Linked DNA regions of Homo sapiens. The protein of the gene in region 1 interacts with the protein of each later gene in a pairwise test. Each region holds a gene or a part of one and is shown in the gene's direction. Other genes may lie near its edges.

Region 1 (7,108 bases):
TTTCGTTGTTTTACTTATATGTTATTGGGCAAGTTACCAAATCTCCCTAAGTCTGTATTCCTTCAGCCAAATAATGGGATGACAATCTGTTTCACTGGATGATTGTGAGGTTTAAATGTGGTCATGCATCAAAGTTCCTTATACAGCACTCAGTGCACAGCAAATATTCAGTGAATATTAATTATTTTATTATGACTGCTACCAGCATCTAACGACAGTCCTAAATACCATCTAAGTTTACCAAATGTCTCTCTGATTTACTGGTGACATTGGATAAAGGAAATGCTAAGAGAATGCAGTGCAGTGGAAAGAAGGGCGGGCTGGACATCAGCGTTCTGGTCTCCATCCGGGACTGGCCAGCAGGTGGCTCTGGAAAAGGGAGTCCCTCAGGGTCACGGTTTTCTATCTGTCCTGAGGCATGATCTTCAAAGTCCATTCTAGCTTCTGTCTATGACTTTAGATCTGACAGAAATCTCCCCGGAGGAACTCATGAGCCGTAAGTTAAACATGGTTTGAAATCACCCTTGAGCTCCTTGCTGATCATGCTTATCCATGTTGAAGGCTCATCCAGGAATAATAGATGGGTCTTGTGTGTGGTTTGAAAAGTTCACTTCTGGCCAGGTGCAGTGGTGAACCCTGTAATGCCAGCACTTTGGGAGGCCAAGGTGGAAGGATCGCTTGAGGCCAAAAGTTCAAGACCAGCCTGGGCAACATAGTTAGACTTTGTCTCTAAAAAATAAAAATAAAAATTAGCTGGGCATGGTGGTACACACCTGTGGTCTCAGCTACTCAGGAGGCTGAGGCGGTAGGATCACTTGAGCCTGGGAGGTGGAAGCTGCAGTGAGCTATGATTGTGCCAGTCCACTCCAGCCTGGGCAAGACCTTGTCTCAAAAGGAAAGTACACTTTTTATTTTCACAGGAGGTAATGATACATTCAAGTTGGTTACTTTACACAAGAAGAAATTTGTGTAATTTCTTACACAAAGAAATTACACAATTTTAGATAAATTTATCTTTATCTAAAATTATAATAAATAATTTTATTATTTAATAAACAATAAATAAATCTAAAACTCATTTATGTAAAATTTGTCACTATCTAAAATTTTCATAGTAAATTGTATGGAAAATATAATATCCCGTAGATGTGTCAAGACCAGAACATAGGTCAAACAGAGCTGAACTCGAGTCTCAGGTCTGCTGGTTGACTGCTAGTGACCTTGGGCAAGTCACTTACCCTCTCCAGTTCTTGTTTTCCTCACCTGAAAATGGGAACGATATTGTCTGCCTTATCGGGCTATGATGAGAATGGAAAGCTAGAACATGTAGACTGCCCTCCATAGTGCTTGGCATGGGGTCGTTCCTTTTCCCTCCCAGATGGAACACTGCATCCATCCCGATGGAGGTTTCTAGATGATGCTCCAGAGGATTCCAAGCAGAGAACATTTACAATTTCCATACATTACAAAAGTGTGAGCCTGCAAGGCAAGGTCTGGAGCTGGGAGCACATCTGGAGCAGTGGGTGGGTACTGAGAACCATATCCACACACACAAAGAAATGTGTTCGTTCAGAAGATCCAGCATCAATTCCTTCTTCCTAAGATTTGACAAGACTGGAGTCATTTCTTCACCAGGCCCATTTTATGAAAAACCCTGGGAAAACTGAGGTCCAGCAGCCAAAGATCTAACACAGCGGAATCAGGAAAAATGGTGGACAGGCCCCTGAAGGCACGTAAGGAGCAGGGAGCCTGGTGACCTTGGTGCACCCAATGCCTCCCTAACTAGAGTAATGGAACACCAATGTGGTTTACATTCATAATCCCTTGCATTTGAGAATTTTTAAATCTACTTAAATTTTCAAACAAGGGACACTCACACCACCTCCCACACTTATTAGCATGCTGTTTTATCACTCCGATATGTTCAAGGGACCCACCCCCATAAAAGATGGAAGATGAATCAGAAAACTCAACTGGAATTGCACTCCCTAGAGGGGCCCTGGGAGTTGTTTAGATATGCATAGTCTCACCTCAAGGCACATGCTGGGTACAAGATCCCTTATCACACCTCCAGTCCTGCTCAGCTTTTTAAGGGAGCATTTCCTGATATATAGGTCTTTAACTACCAGGTGTATTTGCCCACTGTCCACCTGTGCCTTCAAGTACCGTACTTAACAAGTTGGAACCGAGGGAATGGTACACTTCACATTTTGCAACTGTTATGCAAATAGAACTTCAATGAAATTCCTCAAACTGTTGACTCTAGAAACCGTGGGAGACAAAGGGTCAGTGTCTGACTTCACGAACGTTACCAACTTGAAAAATGAGATCTATTCCTTAGTGTGTGGGAGGAAGACATTTAAATCTGTAGTACCCTCAAAGCCTCACTCTAAACCTGGTCTGGCACTTTTCAATGTGTGTTCTTTGATATGGTAAGTAGTTAAGTATATCCCACCAGAGACCTTCCAAGGATGGGTTTTTTCCTCCATATGACTTCTCTCACTCTTTGCAGGAGAATAAAATAGAGTTTCAACTGAACTTTAAAGCTGTAACCTGATCTCAGAATCATGCACCATAAACAGCATTTGTGCTTTTCAAGATACTTTCAAATCCATATAGTTTTCCAAGATATTCCTAGTTGCCACATTGGGTGATTTAATTTTTTTTTTTTTTTTTTTTTTTTGAGATGGAGTCTCACTCTGTTGCCCAGGCTGGAGAGCAGTGGCGAGATCTCGGCTCACTGCAACTTTCACCTCCCAGGTTCAAGCGATTCTTCTGCCTCAGCCTCCCAAGTAGCTGGGATTACAGACACCTGCTACCACGCATGGCTAATTTTTGTATTTTTAGGAGAGACAGGGTTTTGCCACATTGGCCAGGCCGGTCTCAAACTCCTGACCTCAGGTGATCTGCCTGCCTTGACCTCCCAAAGTAATGGGATTTCGGGTGTGATCCACCGTGCCTGGGCTGGGTGACTTAATTTTAAATGTAGGGACATCAAGCAAAATGTTGCTGAGGAGTCTCTTTCGCAGCAAAAGTCCTGTGAAATCTGCAAGGCCATCTTTTTCATGGGTCCCCAAATGTTTCACAGGCAACTGGGCAATAATTGCATTTCCAGGAATGCCAAATGGAGCCAAATCCTTTTAATAGCTCACTGACATGCAGGTTATTCCACTGGGGACCAAAAGGAAGGAACTAGAGCTCTCAAAATATTTGATTCTTGATTTGTGCTCTTCACTGGATGATTCTATTTTCTTGAGAGCATTTTTAACGAAACAGCAGCAATCAGTGATTTCTTAGAAATGTGGCCCCTTTAAATACACTTCAGTGAGGCTAGCTCTTGTGTTTCCTGGACACTCTGTGTGTTCTGGACATACTGGAGGCACAGCATAAATATTAATGCTGGCCATTACAAAAAGAAAATGAAAAGACCCCATAAGGCAGCAGTGACCCTAGAAGCCCCAGAAGCCGTGTTGGAACTGTGACAAGGAAGGATAGTGACAAGATCTGAAAAAAGCAGCCCTCTTCCCACACTCAACACATGCAGTAAACCCAGACATGCAGGGCACCATTGTCTGAGCTGTCACTGGAGGGCTGGGAGGAGACAGGGGATGGGGCAATGGCAGCCTACCCACCCCTCCTCATCACTGTCCAGGGGCATTCAGGAAACACAGGCTTCCAATATGAGGCTGCCTTTTTTTCTCACAAGCCATGCTCACTAGGAATCCATAGCGGCCATCTGCACACCGACCTGGTGGTGTCTCAAGCTTCCAGGTGTGGTTTTGGGGGCAGGGTCCTTGAGGAAGGGGGTGCTGCTGACAGTGAGGTAACCTGAGGTCAGCTCTGGACAGGGCTGGGTGGAAGAAGAGTGTAGTGACTGCTGATCCCTGTCCTTTCTAGGAATTGGGGTTACTGGGTCAGAGAAACATCTCAATACCTTCCAGGCTTCCAAGGCTGGTTGTAAACCTGCTCCTTGATAAAAGAAACTACATCCAACCTTTAGGAGCAAGGTGGGGTAACATGGGAGCAGATCTTAGTTCATTTGTTTGTTTGTTTTTGCTTGCCTGCTTGCTTTTTTGTTTTTTCTTTTTCTTTTTTTTTTTTTTTTTGAGACAGGGTTGCACACTGTTGCCCAGGTTGGAGTGCAGTGGTGCAATCATGGCTCACTGCAGCCTTCACCTCCCAGACAGGTGATTCTCCCACCTTAGCCTCCCAAGTACCTGGGACTACAGGCATGCACCACCATGCCTGGCTAATTATTTTTTATTTTTTTGTAGATATGGGATTTTACCATGTTGCCTGGGCTAGTCTCTGAACTCCTGGGCCCAAATACTCTGCCCACCTGGGCCTCCCAAAGTGCGGGATTACAGGCATGAACCACCTCACCCAGCCTACAAATTCTTATATGACAATTTGAATCTCTGCTTGGATTTGTTTTATCCTCTCTTGTGCTTGTAACTCAAACTTTAATACTTGAAAAGTTTCATCAAAATTTAAATATACTTTTCTAAATCTGTGAGAAGGCTGTCTCCCAAGATGGTTTGTTACTGCACATCTTTTCCCCGGTAGATGGAAATATCCCTTCTCTATTCTCTTTCCCTTAGTCTTTCAAAAACTCAGTGAGGAGGAAGTGCTTGCTTCTAGCTTCTGGCGGTAGGCTACATTTCCCAGCCTGTCAGAATGGCCTCTCTGCAGGCTTCAACCCTTATGAGAAATAAAGCTGTCCTTTAGCAAAGTCATCAAGCTAAGTGTCTGTCAACAGATGATGATTAAAGTGTGGTACATATACACCATGGAATACTACTCAGCCATAAAAAGAATGAAATCATGCCTTTGGCAGCAGCATGGATGAACCTGGAGGCCATTATCCTAAGTGAAATGAGTCAGAAACAGAAAGCCAAAAACTGCATGTTCTCAGTTATAAGTGGGAGGTACACAGTGGGTATATGTGGACATAGAGAGTGGAATAATAGGCATTGGAGGCTCCAAAAGGTGGGAAGATGGAAGGGGATAAAGGATGAAATATTGCCTATTGGATATAATGTACATTACTCAGATGATGAGTACACTAAAAGCCCAGACTTCACCATTACGCAATATTTCCATGTAAGAAAGCTGCACTCGTGGTGGTGTATGCCTGTGGTCCCAGCTATTCAGGAGGCTGAGGAGAGAGAATTGCTTGAGCCTGAGAGTTCGAGGCAGTGAGCTGTGATTGCACCACTGCAGTCCAGCCTGGGCAACGAAGTGAGACTCTGTCTCTAGGAAAAAAAGAAAAAGAAAGAAAAAGAAAAGAGGTGGATGCAGACTGGAGATTTAGGAAAGCCTTTTCAGCTCCTTTCTCTTGCCAAGTCTTGTTTGTGGCTTTGGTGGGTGGTTTTGTTTGGGGGCCTGTCTTCTTTATTCCCTTTTCTTTTTTCTCTTAATCAAAGCAGTCTGTTCTGGTACTGCAGTGAAACAACTCTTTCCAGTTCCTTTGCATGGTGGTTGTGCACGTAGCCTCCAGGCCTGGGCTTGCATCAGTCATTTTGTCTATTCATACAAAGGGAAATTTAGGCTTTGTTCAGTTCATCTCCTACCAGGGCATGTACTTTCACAGCTACTGCCTGGGAAGCTTTGTGTGCATGAGATATCACCAGTCTGCCAGGCTACCAACTTGACTGTAAGTGGAGAGACTAACTGATGAAGCAATGACTGTGTGCCAGGAACTGTTCTAAGTGCTTTATGTGTATGAGCCAGTCAGCCCACTATTACTGTTCTTCTCCATTTTCAGGTGAGGAAACTGAGGCTCAGATTGTTGAGAAAATTGTCCCAAGCCGCACAGCTGGTCAGGGGCAGGCCAGCATTCAGTTTCCAGAGCCTGTGTTTTTAACCATTATGTGATGCCTCCAGGGTACATTATATTCTTTTGCATGAATGTGCAAAAATATGTCTTCATGCTTCTATTTCTGTTCATTTAACTTGTTTCAATTTTTTTCTATCACAAATAATACAGCAATGAATGTTTTTGCAATAATAGCTTATAATGATAGTTAACATTTGTCGAATCGCTAACAAAGTGATGGGCTCTGTTTCAAGTTCTTTATGCATCTTAATTAATTTAATCTTTGTAGCAATCCCACTATTATTTTTTACTTATTTATTTATTTTTTGAGACAGAGTCTCGCTCTGTCGCCCAGGCTGGAGTGCAGTGGCACGATTTTGGCTCACTGCAACCTCTGCCTCCCGAGTTCAAGCAATTCTCCTGCCTCAGCCTTCCAAGTAGCTGGGATTACAGGTGCATGCCACCATGGCTGGCTGACTTTTGTATTTTTAGTAGAGACGGGTTTCACCATGTTAGCCAGCTGGTCTTGAACTCCTGACCTCAGGTGATCCACCCGCCTCGGCCTCCCAAAGTGCTGGGATTACAGGTGTGAACCACTGTGCCTGGCAAATCCTACTATTATTACTATTTAACGAATTTAATCTTTGTAACAAACCTACTATTATTACCATTTAACAGAAGAGGGAAACGAGGCACAGGACAGTTGGCTACATATTTTGTTCCAGATTGCACAATTAGAAAGTGGCAGCTTAGCACCATAAGACATAGTGAGGAAAAAAGAAAAAAAAAAAGTGGATGGGCTGGCATTGAAACCCAGAGCTGGTACTCTTATGATAGTGTCTAGACAATATCTGTGACCACACCTCTGATTGTACCTCAAGAAGAAAGATTTTTAAAGTGAAATTACTAGAGCATAAGATATAAACATTTAAAAGGTTTTTGATACATCTTACAAAAGTGCTTTTCAATAACACTGATTGATCATGCTCATTTGCATTTCCATGAGCACTGTGTAATTGATCAAGGACTCTAAAAGTTAGATAAGCCACTGATAAATGGAGATGCCCCTCTAAGTCCCTGGGCAGTAAAACCTGACCAGCATAGCCTCCAATAACCTGCATAGTGTTGAGGAGAGCTTGGATTTAAGAGATTAAGAGGGTCAAACTCTTTTCTGTCCATTTTAAAATGCAAGTTTTATTTAAGAGGAACTATCTAATATGCTGAAGACAGTATCAGGTATCTGTAAAATTGCTTTTTGTAACTCAGAATCTTGGAACAAAAGAAACAATA
Region 2 (8,018 bases), on another chromosome or scaffold:
GAGACAGGGTTTCACCATGTTGGCCAGGCTGGTCTCGAACTCCTGACCTCAAGTGATCCGCGGGCCTTGGCCTCAAGTGATCCTGCCTCAGCCTCCCAAAGTGCTGAGATTACAGGTGTAAGCCAGTGCACCTGGTGTAAATTTGGGTCTTTAATCCATTTTGAGTTAGTTTTTCCATATGATATAAGGGGTCAATTTTTTCATTTTCTTGCATGTAGAGCTCTAGCTTTCTCACCATCATTAGTTAAAGAGACTGTCCTTTCCCCATTGAATGGTCTTCATAATTTTTTTAAAAATCATTTGATCAGGTATGTGAAGATTTACTTCTAGGCTCTCCATTCTATTCCATTGGGCTGTCTGCCTTTATGTCAGTACCACACTTTTTTGATTACTATAGCTTGTGGTAAGCTTTAAAATCTGGACGAGTAAGACCTCCTCCTTTTTTAAGATTGGTTTTGGCTATTTAGGGCCTCTTGAGAATCCACATTGGTTTCTGAATAATTTTTTTTTCTAATTCTGCAAAAAAGAAATCCCATGGAGATTCCATTAAACCTTTAAATTGTTTTCAGTAGTATTGACATATTCAAAATATTAAGTCCTTCAGTCCATGAACACAAGATGTCTATTTATTTGTGTCTTTCTTTCAGCAACATTTTTTAGTTTTCAACCTATGAGTCTTTTGCTTCCTTATTTACTCCTAAGTATTTTATTCTTTTTGATATTATTGTAAATGGAATTATTTTCTTAATTTCTGTTTCAGAGTGCTCATTGTTAGTATATAGAAACTATTGATTTTTGCATATTGATTTTGAATCTTGCTACTCTGTTTATCTTGTTTATTAGTTTTAACAGTTTTTTGTGGCATATTTAGGATTTTCTACATATATTATCATGTTGTCTCTAGACAGAGATAGTTTTTTCTTTCCAATTTGGATGCTATTTATTTATTTACCTACATTCATTTATTTATTTATTAGACGGAGTCTCACTCTGTCACCCAGGCTGGAGTGCAGTGGTGCGATCTCGGCTCACTGCAACCTCCGCCTCCCGGGTTCAAGCGATTCTCTTGCCTCAGCCTCCCAAGTAGCTGGGACTACAGGTGCGTGCCACCATGCCCGGCTAATTTTTGTATTTTCAGTAGAAATGGGGTTTCGCCATGTTGGCCAGGCTGGTCTTGAACTCCTGACCTCAGGTAATCCACCTGCCTCAGCCTCCCAAAGTGCTGGGATTACAGGCATGAGCCGCTGTGCCCGGCCTATTTATGTATTTATTTATTTATTTTTCTAATTGCTTTGGCTAGGACTTCCAGTATTATATAAAATAAAAGCGGCAAAAGTGAGGATCCTTGACTTGTTCTTGATCTTAGAGGGAAAGCTTTCAATCTTTCACCATTGAATGTAATGTTAACTGTGGGCTTTTCCTGCATGGCCTGTATTATGTTGAGGTGGTTTTCTTGTATTTATAGTTTGTTGAGTGCTTTCTTCATTAAAGAGTGTTGAATTTTGTCAAATGCTTTTTCTGCATCAATTGAGATTATCGTCTCCTTTTACCATTTCTTGAAGAGAATAGTGAAATAACTCCCATTACCATAATCATACTAGTCTTTGTGCTGTGATGTTATGCACAAAATGGTGCTTCATAAAGCATTTGATAATTGTACGACAGTCTTATGTGTGGGAAGATAAGTAAAATTTAGTCATGTAAAAGTCATTATGCAGTTATTGATTTGGCAAAAAAAAAAAAAAAAAGAAAAAAAAGAAAAAAGTCACTAGTCCAATAAAAAGGCATTTGCTTTGAAACTTTTCTTGAACCTCAAACTAGCTAGTAAAACTTGACAAAGTGGAGCCGTGTGTGGTGGCTCAGGCCTGTAAGTCCAGTACTCTGGGAGGCCAAAGTGGGAGGATCCCTCAAGCCCAGGATCAGCCTGGGCAACATAGAGAGACCCTGCCTCTACAGGCGTGGTGGTACGTGCCTGTGGAAAAAAGTGCCAGTTTTTCCAAGGGGTTGTATGAACTTGCACTCTTAGCAGCAGTGTATGAGAGTTCAAGTTGCTCTTTGCTAGCATTTGGTATTATCTATCTTTTTCATTTAAACTATTCTAGTGATTACAATAACACTCTGTTGTGGTTTTAATATGAAATTCCCTTCTAGTCAGGGAAGTTAAACACACATATTGCAAAATTTATTGGCTGTTCAGGAATCACCTTTTGCGAAGTGTCTATTCCAGGTTTTTCTAATTTTTTTTTTGTAAGATTGTCTGCTTCTTCTTCAGTGTTATAATAAAAGTTCTCTATAAATTCTACATGTGAGTCCTTTGTCAGATATATGTATTACAGTTCTCTTTTGCCTTTCTGTGGCTTTCTTGTTCACTCTCTAATGGTATCTTTTTTTTTTTTTTTTTAATTTGAGATGGAGTCTCACTCTGTCACCCAGGCTTGAGTGCAGTGGCGTGATCTTGGTTCACGGCAACCTCCACCTCCTGGATTCAAACAACTCTCCTGCCTCAGCCTCCTGAGTAGCTGGGATGACAGGTGCATGCCACCATGCCTGGCTAATTTTTGTATTTTTAGCAGAGACAGGGTTTCACCATGTTGGCCGGGCTGGTCACGAACTCCTGACCTCAACTGATTCTCCCATGTTGGCCTCCTAAAGCGTTGGGATTACAGGTGTGAGCCACTGTGCCTGGTCTCTAATGGTATCTTTTGATGAATAGATATTCTTAGCATTGATGAAGGCCAATTTCTCATTTTTGTTTTTCTTTTAGTGTATTCTGTAACCTAAGGATCTTGAATTAATCCAAAGCCATTAAGATATAATTTTCTTCTAAAAGCTTCATTATTTACCTTTTATATTTAGATTGCAGTCCATCTGGAATCAATTTTGTGAATGGTGTGAGACTGGGGTCAATATACATTATTTTCCCCTTATGACTTCTCAAATGACCCAGCACTATTTGTGAAGACCATCCTTTCCCTACTGTATCTTTTTTTTTTTGTTTGTTTTTTTTGAGACCAAGTTTTGCTCTGTCGCCCAGGGTGGAGTGCCTTGGCACAATCTCGGCTCACTGCAACCTCCGCCTCCTCCATTCAAACGATTCTCCCGCGTCGGCCTCCTGAGTAGCTGGGACTACAGGCCGAGTGCCACCATGCCCGGCTAATTTTTGTATTTTTCGTACAGGCAGGGAGTTTCGCCATGTTGGCCAGGCTGGTCTCAAACTCCTGATCTCAAGTGATCCGTAGGACTCGGCCTCCCAAAGTGCTGGGATTACAGGCCTGAGCCACCATGCCCAGCCTATCTTCGCCAGTTTTAATGCTAAAAACTATTCCATTCTATGGCACTCCCTTAACTTAACTTAGCCATTTTTCCATCTGGGTATTTGGGTTGTTTTCAGATCTCTGCTATCATCAAACAGGAGGAATACTTTGTATGGACATCAAGTCATTCTTCTGCAATTATTAACCCAGAAGTGAAATTTCTAAGCTAGAAAATATTTGCTTTTTTGGAAAATTAATAAATTATATTCAAAACTCAAATAATGTAAAGAGACCCAGTGAAAAGTCTGCCTCCTATTCTGTCCCCCTGTCCTCCCAGTCCCTCTTCCACCAGGTAACCACACTCAGGAAATCTTGTGTATCTTTCCAGATATCTTGTAATGGATGTACAAGCATTATTTATATTCTTTTCTCCTTTTGTTTACACAGCCAGTGGTACTCTATGCATTCTGTCCTGCATCTTGCCTTTTTCATTTAACAACCTATTTTAGAAATCTTCCCATTGCTGTACATAAAAAGATTTAATACCTCATTTGAAGGAGGCACCACAATGATGGACATCTGTGTTGTTTCCAATAGTTTGCCGTTGAAACAACGTTGCAATGGAATAACTTTGTACATGTCATTTCACATGTGTAAAAGGTGTCTATTGGGGAAATTGCTAGAAGTGGCTTTGCTGAGTCTGAGGGTCTGTGCATTTGTGATTTGATCAACATCGTCAAATTATACTGCCACCAGCAATGTATGAAAGTGCTTGTTTTCCCGTAGCTTGGTCAATGAACTATTAGACCTGAGATCTTTAGCCATCCAATATGTGAAAAACTGTAACTTTAGTTTGCATTTGTTTATTGTATGTGAAGTTGAGCATCCTTTCAGAAGTTTAAGGCCTACTCTGTCCTGTCTGGGTCAGAGTATGCCCTTTTATTTTATTTTTAGTTTTAGTTTTTGAGACAGAGTCTCGCTCTGTCACCCAGGCTGGAGTACGGTGGCGCAATCTCGGCTCACTGTAACCTCTGCCTCCCGGGTTCAAGCGATTCTTCTGCCTCAGCCTCCTGAGTAGCTGGGATTACAGGAGCACGCCACCACGCCCGGCTAATTTTTTTTGTATTTTCAATAGAGACGGGGTTTCACCATGTTGGTCAGGCTGGTCTCGAACTCCTGACCTGATGATCCGCCCGCCTCAGCCTCCCAAAGCGCTGGGATTACAGGCGTGAGCCACCGTGCCCGGCCCTCAGAGTATGCCCTTTTAAAAATCTGTGGGTACACGTAGCCAACTGACATTTTAAGACAAGAGGACCCACAGACCCTCTTTCCACAACGCAGCCCGGGACCTGTCTGTCTGCATCAATAGTGCCTGGCTTTCGGAGCTAGAAAACAGCACCTGCGCGTGGTCGAAGCCTGAACCTCTACTTACAGGTGCGGAGCTTCCGGCTTGCCAGGGGAAGGAGCCCGCCCCTCCCGGCTGCGTGCACCAGCGCAGCTAGTCACGTGACGCCGGGGGCGGGGGCAGATAGGAGGTGCCTGCTGTCATCGTTCCGTGGGCCCTGCTGCGGGCACGCTCTCGGCGCATGCGTTTTTTATGCGGGATTAAGCTTGCTGCTGCGTGACAGCGGAGGGCTAGGAAAAGGCGCAGTGGGGCCCGGAGCTGTCACCCCTGACTCGACGCAGCTTCCGTTCTCCTGGTGACGTCGCCTACAGGAACCGCCCCAGTGGTCAGCTGCCGCGCTGTTGCTAGGCAACAGCGTGCGAGCTCAGATCAGCGTGGGGTGGAGGAGAAGTGGAGTTTGGAAGTTCAGGGGCACAGGGGCACAGGCCCACGACTGCAGCGGGATGGACCAGTACTGCATCCTGGGCCGCATCGGGGAGGGCGCCCACGGCATCGTCTTCAAGGCCAAGCACGTGGAGGTGAGGCTGGACCGCGGCCGGCAGCCTGGCGGGGGTGTGCCCCCGCCACCCTCCGGCTAACGCTCTAAACTGTTTCGGTTCCCTTTTTACATCCAGTACAGTTTTTAAAACCTACTCATATTCTAAACCTACTTTGGGCCGTTGCGCTTCCCTCCGCACAGCTGGCTTGGTCCCCTACCCCAGCGGCTGGGTCCCAGGCTAGTCCTAGACCCCCGAGGAGGGCCTCTGGCCGAGCCGGGGGCGCGTGTCTCTCTCTCAACCACCTTCCCCTCACCCACCTTCATCTCTCTTTCCCAGCCGAGGGTGGGCTGGCAGTGTCTGCCTTCTATCCTGCAGACTGGCGAGATAGTTGCCCTCAAGAAGGTGGCCCTAAGGCGGTTGGAGGACGGCTTCCCTAACCAGGCCCTGCGGGAGATTAAGGCTCTGCAGGAGATGGAGGACAATCAGTATGTGAGTAGGGGAGGGGGGGCATGGTATTCTCACCCTCAGTCGCTCGTTCCCACTTCTTTGTGCCTTCATTTTCCCAGCTACGCCTTCACCAGCTTTCAGGGATTTCCTCCCGCTGTCACTCACACACACTGCTCATTCATCTGCCTCCTTACCCCCTTTTGCCCTTTTTTGTCCACTTGTTCACCTTTATTTACCTATTTCTTTCATTTCTCACACATTCACTCTCATTTGCCTACTTATTTCTTAATGTATTCATTCATTCACCGACTTTTTTTCTCAAAACATGTAGTGATTTATAATGTAACTAGCACCTATTGAGCTCCCGATGTGTTCTGCAGGCATTATATACATTGTCATTTTGAGACCTCTTTACTACTGTACAAGGCAGGTTTCCAGATCTCTGTTTCTCAGGTGAGAGGAGGAGGTTATGTCACCAGCTCTTGGGCCCTCCGTTAGTCAGTAGAGGGTTTGGCCCAGGTTTGATTGAGAGTCCATTCTTCCCTTGGGACCTCCCATAGGCTCTACCCTGTGTTGGGCACTGGTGACACAGAGAAACCAGCTCCAGCCCAGCTCCTGAGGACTTAAGTGTGCTAACAAGAGACAGAGGCAACAGGGCCCACCTAGTGTGGTTCGTGCTGTGATAGGGTACCGGGAGGGGCTGCTGGAACACGAAGAGGGGCATCTTTCACCCCTAGTGTCATTACTCTTTTGGTGCTCTCTCTCACCCATGTCGAAATAGGGAATGTATTTGACTCCCTGGAGAGTTAACAGGGTTGGGTCTCTGTGATCTGGAGATATGCATGATATATTGGATGACAAAAGCATGTTATAAAATTTTGTGTCATCTGGGTTTTGTTTGGAAATATTATATATGTGAATGTGTATTTGTGTGTGCCATATCTGTTGTAAAGTCTGGTAGAATACACTCTAAGATTGACTGTAGGATTTTTCTTTTGTTCTTTTTCTGTTGGATTTTATGTCTTACCTGAATGTGTGCATGTGTTTTGATCTGTTAAATGGTTGTGTACTACCTGAAAAATCCGAAAACAGCAATCAGGCCATTTTGATTTTTTGAGGAAGATAAAAGGGCTTCCAGACAGCCATGTGTGGGATAGGTGGAGAGATCCATAAGGAAGCTGGTGATATGGTCCCTACATCCAGTTGGTCAGCAATTCTGAAGGTTCTAACTTTAAAACATACTCTAGATTTGCTCCTTGCCCAAGTCATCATCACCACTCATCAGAATGACAGTGGCAGCCTCCCCACTGCTCTCCATAGCCACAGTCCGGAGGGCTTTGTCAAAAGTGTAAGTTAAGTCATCGGCTCCCCTGCGTAAAAAGCCCTGGTGGCTTCTCTTCACACTTAGAGCACTATCACCATGTGCCCACCTCCAGCTGGCCTCTCCCTTTTCTCTCATTCAACACAACTTCTTAGGCATCTCTCCAGTGACCAGCACCTATCTAGGGTCCAGGAGCACAGAACAAGGCAGACACATCCTTCCCTTAAACAATCTCATGTACTCACATCCCTCTAGCCTCCTTCTGTGCTGGCGTTAGGGCCTTGCACTTGCTTTTCTTCCTGCTCAGAGCTTTATCCCAGATCCCCACAAACTGGGTCCTCATCTAGCCCCACCCCACCTAAATAAAGAAGTATCCTTTTCTCCACTCACAGAATCACACTATCCTCTTCTAGTTCTGTTGATTTTTTTTCTTTTTTTGATACAGGGTCTCACTCTGTCACCCAGGCTGGAGTGTAGAAGTGCGATTTTGTCTCCCTGTAGTCTCAACCTCCTGGGCTCAGGTGATCCTCCCACCTCAGCTTCCCAAGTAGCTAGGACTACAGGCACGTGTCACCATGCCTGGCTAGTTTTTTGTATTTTTTGTAGAGACAAGGTTTCACCATGTTGCCCAGGCTGGTCTCAAACACCTGGGTTCAAGCCATCCGCCCACCTTGGCCTCTCAAAGTACTGGGATTACGGGCATGAGACGTCATGCCCAGCCCCCTTGTATTTTGGTTCCTGTACTTACAGAATCTGAATATATCCCTTTTATTCATTTATTTGTTAAACTGTTTGTCCTTTGTGCTGTGAGTTCATTAAGAGTCCTGTCTCTCAGCTCACTCTCTGTGTAGCCTGGCTCCTCTGACAGTACTGGCCTCAGTGTTTGTGATGTGTCTGTAGCTGTCCCAGCACTGGGAAAGGTGGGATTCCTGGTGTCCTTTCCTTGGTGCTGGGATTCGGTGGTTCTAGAGGAAACAGGAGGAGACCTGTCCATCTCATGTGTGACCATCCAGATGATTTTCAGGCGGGTAGGCTGGGTGGGCGGACCAGATGGTGCCACTAAATGACCTTTTTTAGACCTTTTAGTGTTCATGGAGAATTAGAGTGGGGGC
Region 3 (7,108 bases), on another chromosome or scaffold:
GCTGTGGCCAACATAGAAATGCTGTCCCCAAAGCCACAGACATAAACGCCTATAGAAAAACAGTATGATGGGTTGAATTTTTGTATATCCCTTTGTCCACCCCAGTTCCCCAAAGGTCAGGTTGGTCTTAGTCCAAACCTGGTGATGTGGGCCTAAACTATATTCAACCCTGGCCCACTACTCTGACCTGATGTGGTCTGGGTGGACAGTAGCTGCAGGTGGCAAAGATGGTTCCAGCCATTTAGATTTCCCAGAAAACAAACATAACCTAGTAAAACTCCAGCTCCCACCCAGTCTCTAAGAATCAAAAAACCAGGAGTGATCTGGGTATGGATACCCACATTCCGATTGAAAACCTACCCCAGCAGGGCTGTTCCAAGCCATGCCACACCCTTAGGAGTAGGCTGGGGCCACACCAGTTGTCTGCAACCCAAGGTTTACAGCCAGGGGCACACAACTTGGAGGGAAGAGCAGCCCTTTCTTTTCTTCATTGTGGTTTTCCATAGGCCCTCTCTGTCCTTCTCCGTTTTGATTCATTGACCCTAAGAGTAGCATTACTTTCATATGCAGCATTAGGTGAATGTCAAGCATTTCCAGAGACCTCCCTAAGAAGTTGTTGTTAGCATTCTTCTGAAGAAGCTGTAGAAATGAAGTAGCAGAGACTTTAGACTAGTGACAAAAGCAACTACCTAACAAAAGTTAGGTATTGACTGACTGAAGGGCTAGGCCATAGCCCAAAATATTACTTTCCTGGGGCAGTGGTTCTTTAACATTAAACATTCAGCTCAAGCAAGCAGTAACCCAAATTTTTCTCACGTTTGTCAGTTGTTTGATAAAATGACTTAACAGACTCAGACCTAATGGACTGTGGTTCTCCTCATTAATGCTATGATCTCATTTGCCCTGGGATATGCCACCATCAGCAGAGAAACCATGCGTTAACTCTTGAAATGCCAAAATGAGTAGGCATTAAATACCTTGCCCTATCTGACCACACTATTTAATGTTTTTATCTTAAATTTAAAAAACTGAAATCTGAAACTGTATGATAGTCAGTAGGCCTAAAACTCCCCCTTGACTTTGAGAATTTGAAGGGATTCCCTTCCATCCTGAAGTCTACTTTCTTGTCATTTAAGGGTGAGAGAAGGGAAGCTTCTGTGCCTTTCTAGAAATTAACAAAGAACCTGTTGGGTCCTAGACCAGAAATCCAGCACGTTATCCTAGCATGAAACTCCCTTTTAAAAAGTGAACACCCAAAGAGATGTTACAAATGAAGATATAGCCCCTTCAGCATCTCTGGAGACCAATACCACAATAAGGAATAATAACAACCTAGGAATAAAGGCAGGAGTTTTTACATAGGATGCACGATATCCAAAGGGACTTTATAAACACAAGCCATTGAGTCTTAAGACCTGACACATGGCAAGGATAGGACATGTGAGAGAAAATGGATGGACGGTTGAAGAAAAGAGGGGAAAAGACCATGCAGTTGAACTAACTTCTTTTTAATTTCAAACAGGTATTTTTTGCATCCGTGCGATCTGGAGGAAGTAGCCAAGTGTTTTTCATGACCCTCAACAGAAATTCCATGATGAACTGGTAACAGAAGAGCACTTGGCACTTATCTTCATGGCGTTATTTCTAATTTAAAAGAACATAACTCATGTGGACTTATGCCAGTCTAGAGGCAGAATCAGAAGGCTTGGTTGAACATATCGCTTTCCCTTTTTCCTCTCCCTCCGCCCCTCCCAGTACAGTCCATCTTTCAATGTTGCAGCCTGGTTGAGAAGGAGAGAAAAAGGTGGCAGGAATTTCCAGGAGATCCCCAAGAATGCTGCCTTGTCTGTGGACAAAGATGGACCATGTGCCCTTCGGAATTAGGGATAGAAACAAATATTGTGTGCTCTTAACGATTAAGCTGTGTTATGGTGGGTTTTCAGGTTTTTACCTTTTTTCTTTACCCCTTTACTCTGCAAGAATGGGGAAAGAATGCATACTGCGAAAATGAGTCTTTTAAATTCTGTCTGCCTACTAGTTTTAAGTATATGGTATGTTGTAAAATTTCCAATGATGAGAGACAGCACAATAAATGTACCTTATCTCCTTAGGCTGAAGGCCATAACTACATAGTGGAGTAATTTAAGAACTCTCTTGCCTTCACCAACCCAAAAGGTTGCTTTTTGATAGCAACTGGCTAATGAATTTTTAAAAAGAGAAGAAAAATACTAGTTTTCCCCTCTTTTGGGAAATAGATTTTAAATGGCTAAACTACTAGCCTTAAAACTACTAGTCTAATAAAATCAACTACCACTTTTGTGAATCTGACAGGCCACATTTTTATATGGCCCTTTACAGAATGGAGTGTGTTGAACAGGATACTAACGCCATTGAGTTGAGCTGGCCTAGCGATGGAGGGACACTCTAACACAACTTTCCCTCAGCTATTATGCAACAGATCAGGGAAAAAGATGGGATGACAGATGGGGTCAGACAGAAAGAGCTTCTGGGAAACAAGCTTACATAGTCTTTTTTAAAATGCACAAAGCCTCCCAGCTAAGAGGTCACTTGGTTTGGGCTTCATTAGGACTGAGACTTTGTTGAGTTCTTTCTGGGACTTGGAGAGTGGATGATATTCAGGCTCTGAACATTCCCAGCGCTCTCCCGAGGGTGCCACTTTCTCAAGATGAAAACTGTGACTGAAAAAATTAATAATAAATGTTTCTGAGCTGCCTGTGTTCTCCCTGTGTGGGTGAGAGAAGGGACTAGACTCCTAAGCCTGCCTCAGATACAAGAGGCATCATTGGCTCCAATTTTAGAGAACTTGAAAGCAAGGCTTTGGACAAAATTTTGAGACCCTAATCACTTTACCTTCCTCCAAATTACCCAACATACGGTAAACAACATTTGTGCAGAAGTATGTATGTATTTAGTTCAGGTTGACTTGTGTCCTTATAAACTCTTACTCAAATGATTTGAACTTTTATGCGACTGGGATTTTTTTTTTCCAAAGCTACAAGCATGGCCGCCTGTGGTATCGAGGTGTTGCAAACAATATCTGTGTTGCGCTTCCTGTTTTAACCTACCTCGTTTTGTTTGTTTTTGTTTCACTGTTCATCACAGCAGTGTTATCTCCAGGAGACATATAGAGAGCTCAACCGGCAATCTCAGGTGCATTTAACATTTTTAAAACGAAACAGTAGTTGACCAAATTTTTCTTCTTAAAAAATTGGAAGTGGGGGGAATCCAATGACAAAAACTAATGTGGCTTGTTTCTGGAGAAAATAATTACTGTAAATGGAACAACAACAACAAAAAAAACTACGATCTTACTGACTTTGCCTAAATACACAAGCAGCTGATGTACTATTAATGAGAACGAAATACACATTAGGAAAATGGAGCCATTTCAATCTAGTGGTTTGGGCAAGATGGGGAAGAGAAGGGGAAACATTCTAGTTTCTGGATTACATTATTATGCCCCTCCTGAAAAGGTGGTTGTCATTTGCATTTATTTAAAGCAGGTAATATGCAGGAATGTAACTGAGGATTATCTTCAGGCAATCAGCAAGATATCCTCCTCATGGTCCCTTTAGCTCTCAAAAGCAATGAAATCCTCCTGTTCTCATTTTTACTGCTGTGGTTGTGCTGCTGAACAATACTATCTTCTCAAATTCCATGCCACAAATTCAGCAATAACTTTTTGGATTGAATTTAACAACTACTGTAATTGGATGCTGATGTGGACAAAATATATTGATTTCGATTTCACTCCCGAATGTGATTGCCACCAGCTCTTTATATTGCTGCTGTGGTATTTTAAACCAGAAGCTTCTTTAAATTATGTTGCAAACTGATCTTTGTTTTTATGTTTTGTTTTGTTTTTATTTCTAAGTGATAAGTTTGAAACACACAGCTTTAAATGATTTTTTTATTGTGGGATTTTGGGTACAGTTAAGAAATAAAAGGGAATCATTGTGTTTAAACATAAGGTAGTTTGTGAATGTATTTTTTAAAATCTAGAGTCATTGAAACAAATCATAAGAAAACAATATTAATGCAGTCTTGTTTACAGTATGTACAGTGACATAACATAGAACATGAGCTTTTCTGGTGCCAACAACAATAAAACACACGTTAAACATCAAGCCATGCCTTTTATATTTTTGTACTAATATTTTACACTGAGTACAAGGCAAATCCAAATTTAAATGGGCCCCCCAGAAATCTGTGCTCTTTAAAAGACAGATATTTAAAGAATTCACTGAAGCTTTTATCTTCAAAAATAAATTTTCCTCCAGCAAGACAGACCCCAGCCCTGACATAAGGAGGCCTAGAACATGCAGAATACGTCAGAATGGTGTCCTTGTGGCTCATCCAAACTTTCTGAATTGCCTTAATTCTTTTTGGGGGTAGGGGAGGAACGGTTGCTTTTCATCCATTTTTATAGCATCTCAACAAAAAAAATCTTCAGTTCTGATCTTTTTATAGGTGATTTTGTCTCTAGAAATTGGCTCATTTTATTTTTATTTTCCTACAAAGAGAAACTGGAGAAACTGAGCCCTCCCCTCAGAGTAAGTTTCACTAGATCTGCCAGTTCTTACTGCTCTAAATTAATAATCATCCAGTAAAATCTACTGAGCCTGCCCACACCATAGTCTGGGTCTGGGGTCTGGCAGGTGACCATCATTCCTGGGTGCCAGTCAAAGATACTGTAGCATGGATTCCTGCATCCAGTGGTGGTAGGAATGGATGACCAGTGAAGTTCCTTCAAATAATGAGGCTCTTCCCCCTGCCAGTTCCAGCCAGACCACTGTCATAACACACAATGCAAATGAAGACAGCCTTCACTAAGTTCCACATAAAATTGAACAGCTCTATTTTAGATAGATCTCATTATTTTTCTTGGAGACTTCTAAACAATCCTTCAAGAAGACCTAGAACTATTATTTTTATTAAACAGGGTATATTAAGTTATGGGTGAAATCTCACAAGGTCACCTGGACAGGGGCTCCATTTTTCTAACACTTTGACATTGTTTTCTAGGGTGCACTCCTAATATACTTTGCATCAAGTACATGTTTTTTAAAAACACCTTAGTTCCTGGTTGTCAAAACCTACTAACAATTTTTGTCTGTTCTTGTGACTCATTGGTAATTGGTGTCTCTGGTCCCTCCTGTCCAGTAGATTATTAGAAAGATGTGAAATTCCAGCCAGAACCATTTTGGTTTTATCCACTGCCAGGAAAGGAAGGGGCTAAAGTCTCACATTCCACGAAGCTTTTAAAAAAATGCTTTCCCTACTACTATGTGTACCAGTTCCCGTCACTGTATTCTTGAAACGTGGAAGAGCTCTTTGTGTTAACAGTGTGTGCTGTCTTTGAAAGTCTGCTTGAACAGGCATCACTTGCATTTGTGCTGATTGCTTTAAGATGTAAGATGTGCTACATTATTTTTAAGAAAAAAAATAGTTATTGATAAAACTTTTAATTTTAACCTACTGCAGGAAAACATGAGAAAATCCACAGCATGCTGATAACAATTCTGAATGATGCTACTATGCTCTTTATATTCCAGAATCACCACTGGTACCATGTTCTGATCATTTCAACAGTCTCTAACTTGTTAGTTACCTTTTAGTTCATTCTTCAAAATTTAAATCTAACCAAATCAAGCAAAACATAACCAACCAACCAAAAACTGACCTCCCCTGAGACTACATAGTTGTAACATAAATCTAAAATCCAAAAGTCTAAATTTGATTTAATTTACCTGCTAATATTTCTCATAAATGCCACTATATCTCCTTGGTCACTATATATCAGGAACCCTAAAGTAAGCTGTCCTTTCATGGATCTTAAATAAATTGGGTGTAAAATTGATCACTTTTCAGGAGTCCCAGCAAAGAAGAAAACCTCTTGAGAATTTGCAAGTTCAAAACTGACAATTTGTATATTCCTACCAAACATTTTCTAGGTTGTTTTTATTTCTACACCATTATTCTGGGAATTCTTCCATTGATAACTAGAATATTCAACAGTTTGCTTAGCATTAAACAGTGTGAGATCATAACCCTGTGCTTTGGACTTTATTCTTCTAGACCTGCCATTCCAGGAAGTGCCAGAATATACCAAAATAAAAATCCCCATAAAAGCATTTTTAAACAAAAATCCCTGGGTAATGTTTGAGTTATTTTAAATCTAGATCAAAATCTTGGATTCTTCTGAGTCCATGATGACAAATGTTTGGATGAAAAGTAGAAAATACAGTTAAAAATAAAAATGTCCTAAAGTTTACAGATTTTTGAGTTTGTGTACATATCTTCAAACTCACTCCTTGCATGATAGGGTTTGGTTTTAATGGTTTATTTTTATCAGCACCAAGTTGCATTGCACTATTGAGGCTGAGCAAATGCTGGTGGAAAGGTGAGTTTTCATTTCTGGCAATGGATCATTATTTGTACACTGTAAATATCATGCCCAGCTACCCCTTTCCCTTATCTCTTCCCCTGGGATAAATGTTAAGGAATAGTAATACTTATTATGGTATGTTTAAGAAACCTTGGACATTACCCTGAATCAAAACTTCAAATGTTAGGTGGCAGCAGGAAACAAAAGATTACAGCTTGAATGAAATTTTAAAATTGAATGTTGTAAAACTATTTTTGAACGTTTTAGCTGCCTTATTTATGTTAATATAACTGTAGAGAGATGCCAAATGTATAATATCAGAAGGGAAAACTACGATTTTGCTGTGCCTACAATTGTTTACATTTTTTAAATCTCCAGTTTTCAAAAGTATTTTAAATTGTCAAACATTTGCTAAAACTGGATTATAACCTCACCTGAGAATGAGAGAAGAAAATCTTCCTGGCATATTTTCCAGTCTGAAACTTTTGGTTACTTTCAGGTATTTTTTTTCTTGCATACAAAAATCATTGAGAAAGTACTTTCTACAGTTATTCTAAGCAGTCATTAAAAATGCTTTGATAGGTTTCCCCACATGGTAACTACCATGTCCTGGAATATAATATGCTATCTTTGTCAAAATATGAATAATAAAACATTAATCGTAGGATGCCTCCTTGTTCCTCATTGCCACTTCCAAAC

The links.
Region 2: the proteins of TRIM2 (region 1) and CDK20 interact in binary tests that used the Homo sapiens proteins (3 or more experiments, as listed by UniProt).
Region 3: the proteins of TRIM2 (region 1) and TNIK interact in a two-hybrid assay, tested with the Homo sapiens proteins (2 studies listed by BioGRID and IntAct).

The regions. Positions count from the first base shown.
Region 1 is NC_000004.12:153,207,400-153,214,507, forward strand, and holds part of TRIM2 (tripartite motif-containing protein 2), read left to right. Parts: intron 1-7,108. UniProt on the Homo sapiens protein: UBE2D1-dependent E3 ubiquitin-protein ligase that mediates the ubiquitination of NEFL and of phosphorylated BCL2L11. Plays a neuroprotective function. May play a role in neuronal rapid ischemic tolerance.
Region 2 is NC_000009.12:87,971,531-87,979,548, reverse strand, and holds the start of CDK20 (cyclin-dependent kinase 20), read left to right. Parts: upstream 1-5,015; 5' UTR 5,016-5,102; coding exon 5,103-5,177; intron 5,178-5,309; exon of another isoform or gene 5,310-5,379; intron 5,380-5,474; coding exon of another isoform or gene 5,475-5,513; coding exon 5,514-5,627; intron 5,628-8,018. UniProt on the Homo sapiens protein: Required for high-level Shh responses in the developing neural tube.
Region 3 is NC_000003.12:171,058,379-171,065,486, reverse strand, and holds the end of TNIK (TRAF2 and NCK-interacting protein kinase), read left to right. Parts: intron 1-1,522; coding exon 1,523-1,606; 3' UTR 1,607-7,073; downstream 7,074-7,108. UniProt on the Homo sapiens protein: Serine/threonine kinase that acts as an essential activator of the Wnt signaling pathway. Recruited to promoters of Wnt target genes and required to activate their expression. May act by phosphorylating TCF4/TCF7L2.